Regions from separate parts of the Homo sapiens genome. Here region 2 is linked to region 1. The links come from fine-mapping of genetic effects on gene expression. A gene starts in region 1. The other region holds a variant in brackets. All regions are shown on one strand. Distances are between the middles of the regions.

What was found. PIP is the estimated chance that this variant, and not a neighbour inherited with it, causes the effect. A credible set is the group of variants that fine-mapping cannot tell apart.
Region 2: its variant is the best candidate, but not a certain one, in a credible set for the expression of LRRK2 in gastroesophageal junction (GTEx, PIP 0.82).

What each region holds. Positions count from the first base shown.
Region 1 is chr12:40,222,857-40,228,243 of GRCh38, reverse strand. It overlaps LRRK2 (leucine rich repeat kinase 2), which reads right to left and starts at 3,247. Exons shown (of 51, transcript NM_198578.4): 1 at 2,962-3,247; 2 at 2,604-2,689. The coding sequence starts at 3,112. It overlaps LRRK2-DT (LRRK2 divergent transcript), which reads left to right and starts at 4,422. Exons shown (of 9, transcript NR_186757.1): 1 at 4,422-4,585. LINC01779 (long intergenic non-protein coding RNA 1779) reads left to right here and starts at 3,341. Exons shown (of 1, transcript NR_186584.1): 1 at 3,341-5,168. RefSeq lists an enhancer at 1,834-1,923 and a silencer at 3,122-3,481.
Region 2 is chr12:40,374,580-40,379,966 of GRCh38, reverse strand. All of the region lies in intron 5 of LOC105369736 (a long non-coding RNA gene), which reads left to right. Among named protein-coding and RNA genes, the nearest start is that of MUC19, 16 kb to the left of the region's middle. The variant T/C (reference allele first, on the strand shown) is at 2,338.

The DNA.
Region 1 (5,387 bases):
ATGCTGGTAAGGATGCAGAAAAAGGGGAATGGTGGTACACTGCTGATGGGAATATAAAGTAGCACAGCCATGATGAAACACAGTATGGAGGTATCTTAAAAAACTAAAAAGAGAATTTTCATATGATCCAGTAATCTCATCGCTGGGTATATATCCAAAAAAAGAACATCAGTATATCAAAGATATATCTGAACTCCCATGTTTATTGCAGCCCTGTTCACAATAGTTAAAATACAGAATCACCTTATATGTCTATCAACAGATTAACAAAGAAAATATGGAGGCCGAGGCAGGAGGATTACTTGAGGTCAGGAGTTTGAAACTAACCTGGGCAACATAGCAAGACTCCATCTCTACAAAAAGTAAAAAAAGAAAAAAAAATTAGCTGAGCATGGTGGCACATGCTTATAGTCCTAGCTACCTGGGAGGCTGAGGCAGGAGGACTACTTCAGCCCAGGATTGCAGGCCTGCAGTGAGCTTTGATCACACCACTGCTCTCCAGTCTGGGCAACAGAGTGAGACCCTGTCTCTAAATTAATTACTTAACTAAAAATAAAAGAAAATGTGGTATACATACACAATGGAATATTATTCAGTCATAAAAAATGAAATCCTGTCATTTGCAACAGCATGGGTGGGACTGGAGGTCATTAGGTTAAATTAAATAAGCCAGGTACAGAAATAAAATATTGCATAATCTCACTCATATGTAGGAGCGGAAAAGGTGGATCTCATGGAGGAAGAGAGTAGAATGGTGGTTACCAGAGACTGGAAATGAAAGGATGGGGAGGGATAAAGAGAAGGTGGTTAATGTGTACAAAAATATAATTAGATACAAGCAATTAAGTTAATATTTAATAGTATAGCAGGGAAATTATGGTTAATAATTCATTGCATATTTTAAAATAGCTAGAAGAAAGAAATTGCAACGTTGCCAACACAAAGAAAAATGTTCGAGGTGACGGATATTCCAGTTACCCTGATTTGAACATTACACATTGTATACATGTATCAAATAGCATATGTATCCCCAAAATATATACAACTATGATATATCCAAAAAAGTAATTAATTACTTTTAAAAAAACTCTTCCTTATTTTCCAGCATACTTTGCCTCTGGTACTCTCTAGGCAGAAATACTAAGTGACACTCATAACTACTCCGGACAAGTATGCTCAGGCTTGGGCAATTTCTAAAATTAAGAATTAGGAAGTATGTTCCAGGCTCCCCTGGGTTGTCAAGTATAGCACTGCCTTATCTAGACCCTGCAGACCAAAACGCCTACCCAGGATCTGACTGTCCTGAGCAGTATCAAGCAGGAGTGACTCTATCAAGTACAGAGTCTAGGGAATGAAGGTGGCCAGAATCAGGCACTTCTGAACACCAAAGCAGAGACAAGTAAGAAGGGATGACGTGGGTGCAGAGCAGGAAGCACAATAGGCCAGTGCCCAAAAAGTGACTCATATTCCACAGGCAAAATTCCGACTTTGAGTCTTAAAAGAACAGCATCTTTATTATGCCTCCATCTTTTCTTGGTTTGGTTTGATAGCAGCGTGAAAATCTATAATAGTCAGATGGAAAATATTTCACAGTTGAAAACAAATTAAAATATTTCTTCCAGATGTAAATGTCCTCATATCAAAGAAGCTAGATGGTTCACCCAGACTAGATACAGCTAGATACAGAGATAAACATCAAGATAAAGATAGACCCACACCACTTTAAAGATTGAGATGCCTCATGTCTGTCAAGCCTCTCAACCATTAAGAAACATTGGCTTTCTGACTGCACCTCCAAGGAGTTCAAAGTCCAATTCTCTTTCTCTGCATGAGTTAACATGCAGATGACAAAACTGATTTCAGTTCCCCAAATCTCTAAGTGCTCCGAAGGAAGTTATCACCTTGGCCTATAATTTTGTTTTGACTGTAAATCATTCTTAATTACCATTTTTAAGGCCCCCTTTAAAAAAAAATCCAAGATACATAGCAAATTTCTGGGTTTCCTATGGTACAGATTGTAAAAGTTTCACTTCTACATGCATTTTATATGACAACAGTTGCAAACTATGAGGGTCTCATAAGACATCACTTTCTTTAGATACTACAAGGTATACTACAACTAAAGGCTAGAAATCTTTGAATTTTAAAAAGTGCTGAACTCTACAAGAGTTTGCTAGTGACAAAGTTGCATTTTATCACTATTAATTATTCCCCTTTTCCAAACTATTCATAATCTTCTCATCTAGGACATGCTCTGTATTGGGAAGATACTTGGAATAGTCAAGTCTAAACACTAATGAATTCATCTTGCCAATAACGAGACTAAAACCGAACCCATTTTTATCCTCCTTCTACCACCATCCATACTGTTGGTTTTATAAAGTTACTTCTTAAAGACACTCAGGGAACACATACTGGGGCTCTTCATCCCGTTTACATTGCGTAATGATTTAACAATATTCCCATCTTAAAATCACAGTCAGAGGTTCCTCAAGCCAAATTTTGGGAATAACCAAGAACTCTCGGCTATATTAACATTGCCAGTAAAACGTCTCCTTCCAAACAGAAGGGAGAATGAGTTGAAGTGAAAACAATGCCTTTACCTGCTGCACACTCGCGACTCTCATATAGGAGTCCAAGACGATCAACAGAGGCACATGGATATTTTTGCCTTGAAATAACTTGGAGGCTGGAAAACAAGTGGGTGGGGAAAAGAAGCAAAGTCACAATCCACAGCACCCCCTCTCCTTTTTAGTCTGAAACGGGGAGAAAAGTCAAAAAGGTGAAGACCTTCCTGAAATTCTCAGCTGCTTTCTGCCCTAAGGAAAGGATATGGGAGTTTGCGGCTCCTTAAGAGTCCGGGTTTGAGCAGGGTCAAGGGGAGGAGGACAAAATTTGCAAATGTAAGGAGGGGGAGAAAGTTTGCAAAAATAAAAGCACAGTTTATTTTCAAGTGATTACCGCGCTCGGAGTACGTGAACACCAGCAGATCCTCCAGGATTTGGACCAGCGTTTCTATCTGTTTTCCTTCCTGGACATTGTTCAGCCTGACTATCAACTTCTTCAGAGTTTCCTCGTCCTCTTCGCACCCCTGACAGCTGCCACTAGCCATGGTGGCACCTGCTTCCAACCCGCCGCCCTCCCAGCATGAACGTCCGCTGCTCAGGGAACCGGCAGGGGCGCCGGCCACAGCTCCCCGGGGGCGAGCTCAGCTCACCGCCCGCAGCCAGCGCTCCCCGCGGGCCCCATCGGCGCCCACGCCCGCCTGTTTATGAGGAAGGAGGCAGCTCCCCGCCCCGCGTTGCCCTCCCTCTCCGGAGCCCTCCTGCTCGGCTTCCTCCTCCCCCACTCAGGCCCCAAAAACGAGCTCAGGGGCCTGCCAGAGGCTCCGCCGAGGCGACGGGCCGCGCAGAACTCTGGCGGCGGCCGTGGGGCTGCTGGAGCCGGGCCTGGCTGGGATGACCGTGACCGTGGCCCCCACGCACGCCTAGACCGGACCCCGGGCGGACGCCGCCTCCTGGGACCAGATTCCACCGCAGCGGCGGCGCGGCCGGGAGTCGCGCGGGAAGAAACTGACTCAGCGGACTCCGCTGAGTCCACAGGCCCGGAGCCCCGCAGCGGAGGCGCGCAGTGCGCAGCCCGGCCGGCCACCCTCCGCGACCCGCCAGCCGGGGATCCTGCGGCCCCACGGAAGGTCTGGGAACTGGGAGCAGGAAAAATGAAAGCCGCCTATCTCCAGATCTAAGAATAGAAATCAGGGCGCTGGGAAAAGAGGACACCGCCCAGATGGCCCCTTTTAGGAATACATTGTCTTTAGAGTTCCACCTATAGGGAGATGAGCAATTTTCCCCCAAAGGATGGAAAGAGGGGTTAGCCATCAAAACTGCCCCCGCTACTCTTTTTTATGATTTTTTGTGACTGTTAGTGGGAGAGGAAATAAACATTGTTTCCCTGTGAGTTATCTGAAGCTCTGGTCACCAAAAGGCCACTAAATTAACTTTTGGAAATTTGAGTTGCACTAGGCAGGATCCTGATACTTGGGACACCCGAAAAGTAATCAGCTCTCAGAGCTATTAGAGCTGAGACAAAGGACAGGGTACATGAAATGAAAGGTGAAAAGTTGAGAGAAGCAAACCTAAATACTCTTCTCTTGGTATTCAGAAATACTTATGAGTATGGGTGTCTATAACCCCAAAGTTTTTTGGTTTTGTCTTTTGATTGTTTGTTTGTTTGTTCTGTTAAGTACCTAAGTAATGTGTTTTTAGGAAAAGAAACCTAGCAAGAACATTGTAGACAAGGCTAGGCAAAGATGATCTATCCTTCAGGTGATGTGTCTGTCCTCAAGATCACTTACAAAGAAGAGGATTGGACTGGAAGTTACTACTTCACAATTTTAGTTTTGTTTTCACATCTGTTACTTCAATCCTGATGACAATTCTGAAATGGATACAACTACTACTATGTATCCTTCTTTCACTAGTGAGGAAATTGAGATTTGGAATTGAGAAGTGAAGAGCTTTGCTGGAGTCACACAGGTGGGAAGTTGAGAGCCAGGACTTCAACCCAGCAAATCTCCTAACTCCAGGTAGAAGGTTCTTCATGCTCTACCACTTTAATAAGAATGCTCTAGACTTTGTTAATACATTAGATTAGTAAGATAGCAAACTCCTACTCAACCTGGATATTGGGTCTATGTCTTGTTGTTATAGAGTCTTTAACTTTTACAGAGACATGCTAAAATATTTATAGTTGAAATGGTTAGGATTTCTTTCAAAGTCATCCAGTGGTGGAGGAAAAGATGAAATGTGTGGAGATAGAGATAACGATAACAACTTTTGAATTGATAATTGTTGAAGATAATATGAGATGGGTTCATGTGGTCTGTTCTACTATTGTATCTATATAAAATTTTCCATAATTTAACAAAAAACTCCCAATCTTACAATATTTATCAGACCTACAGTGTATTATTTTCTAAGTTGTTTCTAAACTTGTTTCCATTTCTGATGACTTAATCAATGTCTCAAACATTTCTAGGCATTCTCCATCTCATGCATTCCTTCTGTTCCTCTGCATTAGTTTCTCCCTTCCTGTTCTACTGAATTACAACCTTGCAAGAAATTAAAACCTACCTCCCTTCCAAAGAAAAATAAATCTAAATTAAAAGATGTCTCCTAATTTCCACAATTCATTCATCCATCTATTGCCTATTTATTATCTACTCTATATTGGCCAGACTGTGAGTAGACAGTGTGAAAATATGAATTATTTGTTGGGAGCATTCTCCCATGAACTACTGCAGTGTTAAGGTAAAGTATTCTCTTAGTTTTCAAAAATGTTTAATTGATTGACTGAAATTCCAAGATTTATCAACTCTTCAAGTAGTT
Region 2 (5,387 bases), 150 kb before region 1:
TCACAATGTTGGAATGGACTTTCGGATAGTGATTTTAAAAAAGCATACATGAGAAATTTTGTCAGTGTTCTGAATAGAATATTATGGTGGTATTGATACTTGCAGTTGTCATATGAACTCCCCTTAATAACATTTTAAGAGGAATTTGAACACTGGCCTTCCCCTGGTAAATAGGTCTCTATAGTAAGCTGTATTCCTGACAAAAGTTCTATACCTGCGTCTTCTGTCTGCATTTGTATCATTGAAATGATTTCTTGTGCTCAATCATAAGCCATATTTTAATGGTCACTCTATCATTTGTCCTGCACAATCACCCACACAGTTATTATATCAGCTCCTTCTTTCTACATCTCCTCTTCTACTTCTTAACATTCATTACTGTCTTTCCATTCTCATTGTGCCTTTTTAGATGTACTCCTTTATGCACTTCATTCAGCCTTCCACTCCTTCCCACTCTGTAAACTCTGTTCTATCAGTGGTCACCACGTATAGCTTCATCAAGTTCATTTGCTTTACTAAGTCCAGATAGATCCTCATTGAATGTTCTGCCATTTTTTACTTCACTGATTATCTCTTTAAACTATCTCCTTCTCAGCCTCTGTCCTCTTCTAACTCTTCTGAATATGGCTTTTTTCAGAGCTCTCTTTTCTCAATGTGCTCTGCACATTGGCCAGGTCATCTTGTCTCAGGTTTTAATTGATAGTGTTATGGGCTAAATTTCCTTGTACATTGAAAAAATTCCTATGTTGAAGTCGTAATCCCTAGTACCTCAGAATATAACCCTGTTTGTGGATAGGATCTTTAAGGAAATAATTAAATTAAAGTAAGGCCATTAGGGTGAACCCTAATCCAATAGATTGGTGCCTTATAAGAAGAGAAAGTCTGGACAAAGACAGGTGCAGGGGGAAGACGATGTGAAGACACAGGAAGAAGACAGCCACCTACAAGCCAAGGAGAGAGGCCTGGAACAATAGTTCCCTTACAACCCTCAGAAGGAGCCAACACTGCCAATACCTTGATCTCAGACTTCTAGCCAAAATAAATTTCAGTGTTTAAGCCATCCAGTCTGTGGTTTTGGCAGTCCTAGCAAACAAATACAGATGGCCTCTCAACAGATGACTTACAAATCTGCTTCTGACCCCCCAGTCTCTTCTGAGTTTTGGATCAGTATTCACAACCATCTATTGAATATTTCCATCTGTATGTTTTATAAGAAGTTTAAATACATATGTCAAACTTTAAATAATTATCTGCACCAGACCTGCTGCTCTTCTTTACTTCTCAGTATATCTCTGTACCCAACAATCTAAGCTTAAAATCTCACAATTTTATTGAATGTATAGTCTTAATTTTGATGTTAAAACTGAAAAGGCATGATGTAGCAATGTTAAGTGGAAATGAATGGCTTTTTTCATTATCTGTGAATCATTTATATTTATTAAACCATATGCTCTAGTTGACAGGCTGGAGAAAATCAACAACTAAAACTGAGATGAGAAGCTCAGACATTTGGGAAATGTATTATCAAATGTTTTCAGGACAATTTTAGTTCATTCAGTGAAAGTAAATTAGTTTGTTTCATCTTTAAATTTAGAGACATAATGTACTAAATAAATATGTAAAACATAAAATTATATTTTAAGGAATTATTATACAAGAAATACCCATTTACCCACCAGCTAGGTCAGGAAATAGAACATTTTCCAGCATCTCAGAATCCTCTACCTGCCTACTTCTCAATTGTAATTCTTTCCCTTCTTTATAGAAATAACCACTCTCTTAATGTTTCTATTTTTCATTTTCTTACTTACCTTATAATTTTACCACTTATATTTATACATCCTTAAACAATCGAGTTCAGTTTTGATTTTTAATTTTATGTGAATGGAAGCATACTATATAAATTCTTTGCATTGTGTTTCTCTCACCCAACATTTTTTGTGGGAGTCATCCATGCCTTTTCTTTTTATTTTCTGCATTTTCACTTTAGTGTGTCAATGTGGGGATGTCCTAATTTATCTTTATTTGGAGTCTCAGTTTCTTGTATGTATGCAAATTGGTATCTTTCATCAGTTCTAGTTATATCCTAGTCATTATCTCTTCAAACATATTTCTCCTCTATATTCCCCTTCTCTGGCATTCCAATCAGACATAAGTTAGACATTATTACTCCACCTTGAAGAGTCTTGACTATTTGGTTTACATTGTTCATCTCTGTTTCTGTCCATGTTGCATTCTAGAAAATCCTTTTTGCCTTATCTTCCAGTTAATTAATTTTTCCTTCATCTGTATCTAAAATGCTATGAACTCCATATATGATATTTTAAATTATACATA[T/C]TATATTTTTTCTTTTTAGAAGTTCTACTTGACTCTTTTTCAAATCCCCTTAATCATATTTATAGCTTCCTGCCCGCTGAAGAAATGTTCAAATGTGTCTTTATTTCAGATCCTATGTTTCACCTTCTGGTATTTGGACTCTTAGCTGTTTTTTTTCTGCTCTTAGTTGATCCTGAAGCATCTCTTTCACGTCGTCATTTTTCTCTTAAGCTTCATTTATTTGAACTGTACATTGTACACTGCTTATTGTCTTTAGAAAGCATATTATTTGAGAAATATTAATAGGATAAATATATATTTCATTAGAGAAGATTTAGATTTTCTTATCCCAGGCACCTAACTACTAATGGAACTACTTTCAATAATAAACCTCTCAATGTTTTTAGAAACATCTGTGATATAAATTTGACCTGTAAATCTCTTGTGACTTCAGAGTTACAATGACTCAGATGCTTTTCTTACCACCTTGCTATGCTCAACACCAAGACTATTTTACTTTGTGCAGTGAGGGACTGTAAAAGTGTGGCATGGGTGAAATCTGGTCTACCATTCTAAGAATAGCAGTTATGCATCACTTAACAACAAGGGCACTTTCTGAGAAATGTGTCATTAGGCAAATCCATCTTTGTGCAAAGATCATAGAGCGTACTTACACAAATCTAGAAGGTATAAGTTACTACACACTTAGGCTATATGGAATAAGCTTTTGCTCCTAAGCTGCAAATCAATACAGCGTGTTACTGTACTGAATACTATACGCAATTGTAACACACTGGTATTTGTGTGTCTAAGCATATCTAAACATAGAAAAGGTACAGTAAAAATATGATATCAAAGATTAAATATGGTACGCCAGTATAGGGCACTTACCATAAATGGAGCTTGCAGAACTGAAAGTTGCTCTGGGTGAGTCGGTGAGTGAGTGGTGAGTGAATGTGAAGGCCTAGGAAATTATTGTACACTACTGTAGGCCTTATAAACATTGTATACTTAGGTTACACTAAATGTATTTTAAAACAATTTTTTTTCTTTTTTCTTTCCATTTTTATTTTTGGAGACAGAGTCCTGCTCTGTCATCCAGGCTGGAGTCACAATCACAGTTCACTGCAACCTTTGCCCTTCACCTCCTGGCCATAAGCAGTCCTCCCACCTCAGTCTCCCAAGTAGCTGGGACTACAGGCCTGTGCCAACACACTCAGCTAATGTCTTGCATTATCGGTAGAGATGAGGTTTCACCTTGTTGCCAAGGCTGGTCACGAACTCCTGGACTCAAGAAATCCTCTTTTCTAAGCCTCCCAAAGTGTTGGACTTAGAAGTGTGAGCCACTGCACCCATCCTATTTTTTTCCCCTTAAATAATAAATTAAACTTAGCTTACCGTAACTTTTTTCTTTATAAACTTTTTAATTTTAAAACTTTTTGATTCTTTTGTAAAAACACTTAGCTTAAAACAGAAACATATTTTACAGCTGTAAAAATATTTTTCCTTAGATTCTTATTCTATAAGCTTTTGTCTATTTTAATTTTTTTTTAACTTTTTGGTTAAAAACTAACACAAACACAAACCATAGCCTAGAGTACTGCCTTCTGGGACAACTCCTGAAGGATCTGCCTGAGGCTGTTTTACAGTTAACTTTATATATCTATATATATACATATATATACACATATATATGTGTATATATGTGTGTGTGTGTGTATATATATATATATAATGTTTTGGTCAATGATGGACTGCATATACAATGGAGGTCCCATAAGATTATAATGAAGCTGTGTATATATTTATATGTGTGTGTGTGTGTGTGTGTGTATATATATATATATATATGAAGTACACTCTAAAATAGGCCAGGCACTGTGTGGTGGCTCATGTCTGTAATCCCAGCATTTTGGGAGTCGAGGCAGGCAGATCACTTGAGGTCAGGAGTTTGAGGCCAGCCCAACCAACATGGTGAAACCCCATCTCTACTAAAAATACAAAAATTAGTCGAACATGGTGGTGCATGCTTGCAAATCCAGTTACTCAAGAGGCTGAGGCAGGAGAATCCCTTGAACCCAGGAGGTGGAGGTTGCAGTGAGCCGAGATCACGCCACTGCACTCCAGCCTGGGTGACAGAATGAGACCCTGTCTCAAAAAAAAGAGAGAAAGAATACACTGTAAAATAATGATTAAAAGTATACTGTAGTAAATATATAAACCAGTAATATCACGTTTATTATCAAGTCTTAGGTAATGCACATAATTGTAGGTGCTAAACTTTAATACGACTGGCAGTACAGTAGGTTTGTTTATGCCAGCATCACCACAGGCAAGTGAGTTACACGTTGTGCTACAATGCTATGTCACTAGGGGGCAGGAATTTTTCATCTTCATTATAATCTTATGGTACCACCATTGTATATGCAGTCCATCATTGACCAACACGTTATGCAGCACACGACTGTAGTTATTTTGGGTTTCAGCTTTTACTGAAGAGTCAATCTGTAATTAGTATCTCCACGTTTTATGTCTTCTATTCCACATATACCTTAAGTCCTTTGAAACCTCATCTCAATTTCACTAGAATCAATAAATGCCTTCACCAAGGCAATTATTTACACATGCATTTATTAATTTATTTATTGAGTTTTCTTTCATAAATACTGTTCAGTGCCACCCACACCTGAAGGAACTCATTTTCCCCAGCCACTGGGAAGGTTGTCAACTTACCTTACAGCCCTCTCCTAGAAATACCTCTGCTGAAAATGTGACCATGCCCAAGCTCACTCTGCCTTCTTCAGGCATCCCCCATCTAACAACTGGTCTACGTGGGTATAAAGACACTTCTATCATTACACAACACCCTTCTTTTCCCTGATAAACTTCCTTGCTTGAGGTCTTCTCTGTCTAAAATTTTCATTTAATTAAAAGCTTCAGTAATTTTTTTTAAAAAAATAACATACATGATGTGAATTTGAGCAACTCCAGGAGGAATTGCTTATGAGCCTTCTCTGGGTCTTGTCAGTGAGTAGAAGGTGGACGGTTTTGCTTCTGATTGTCACACTGAC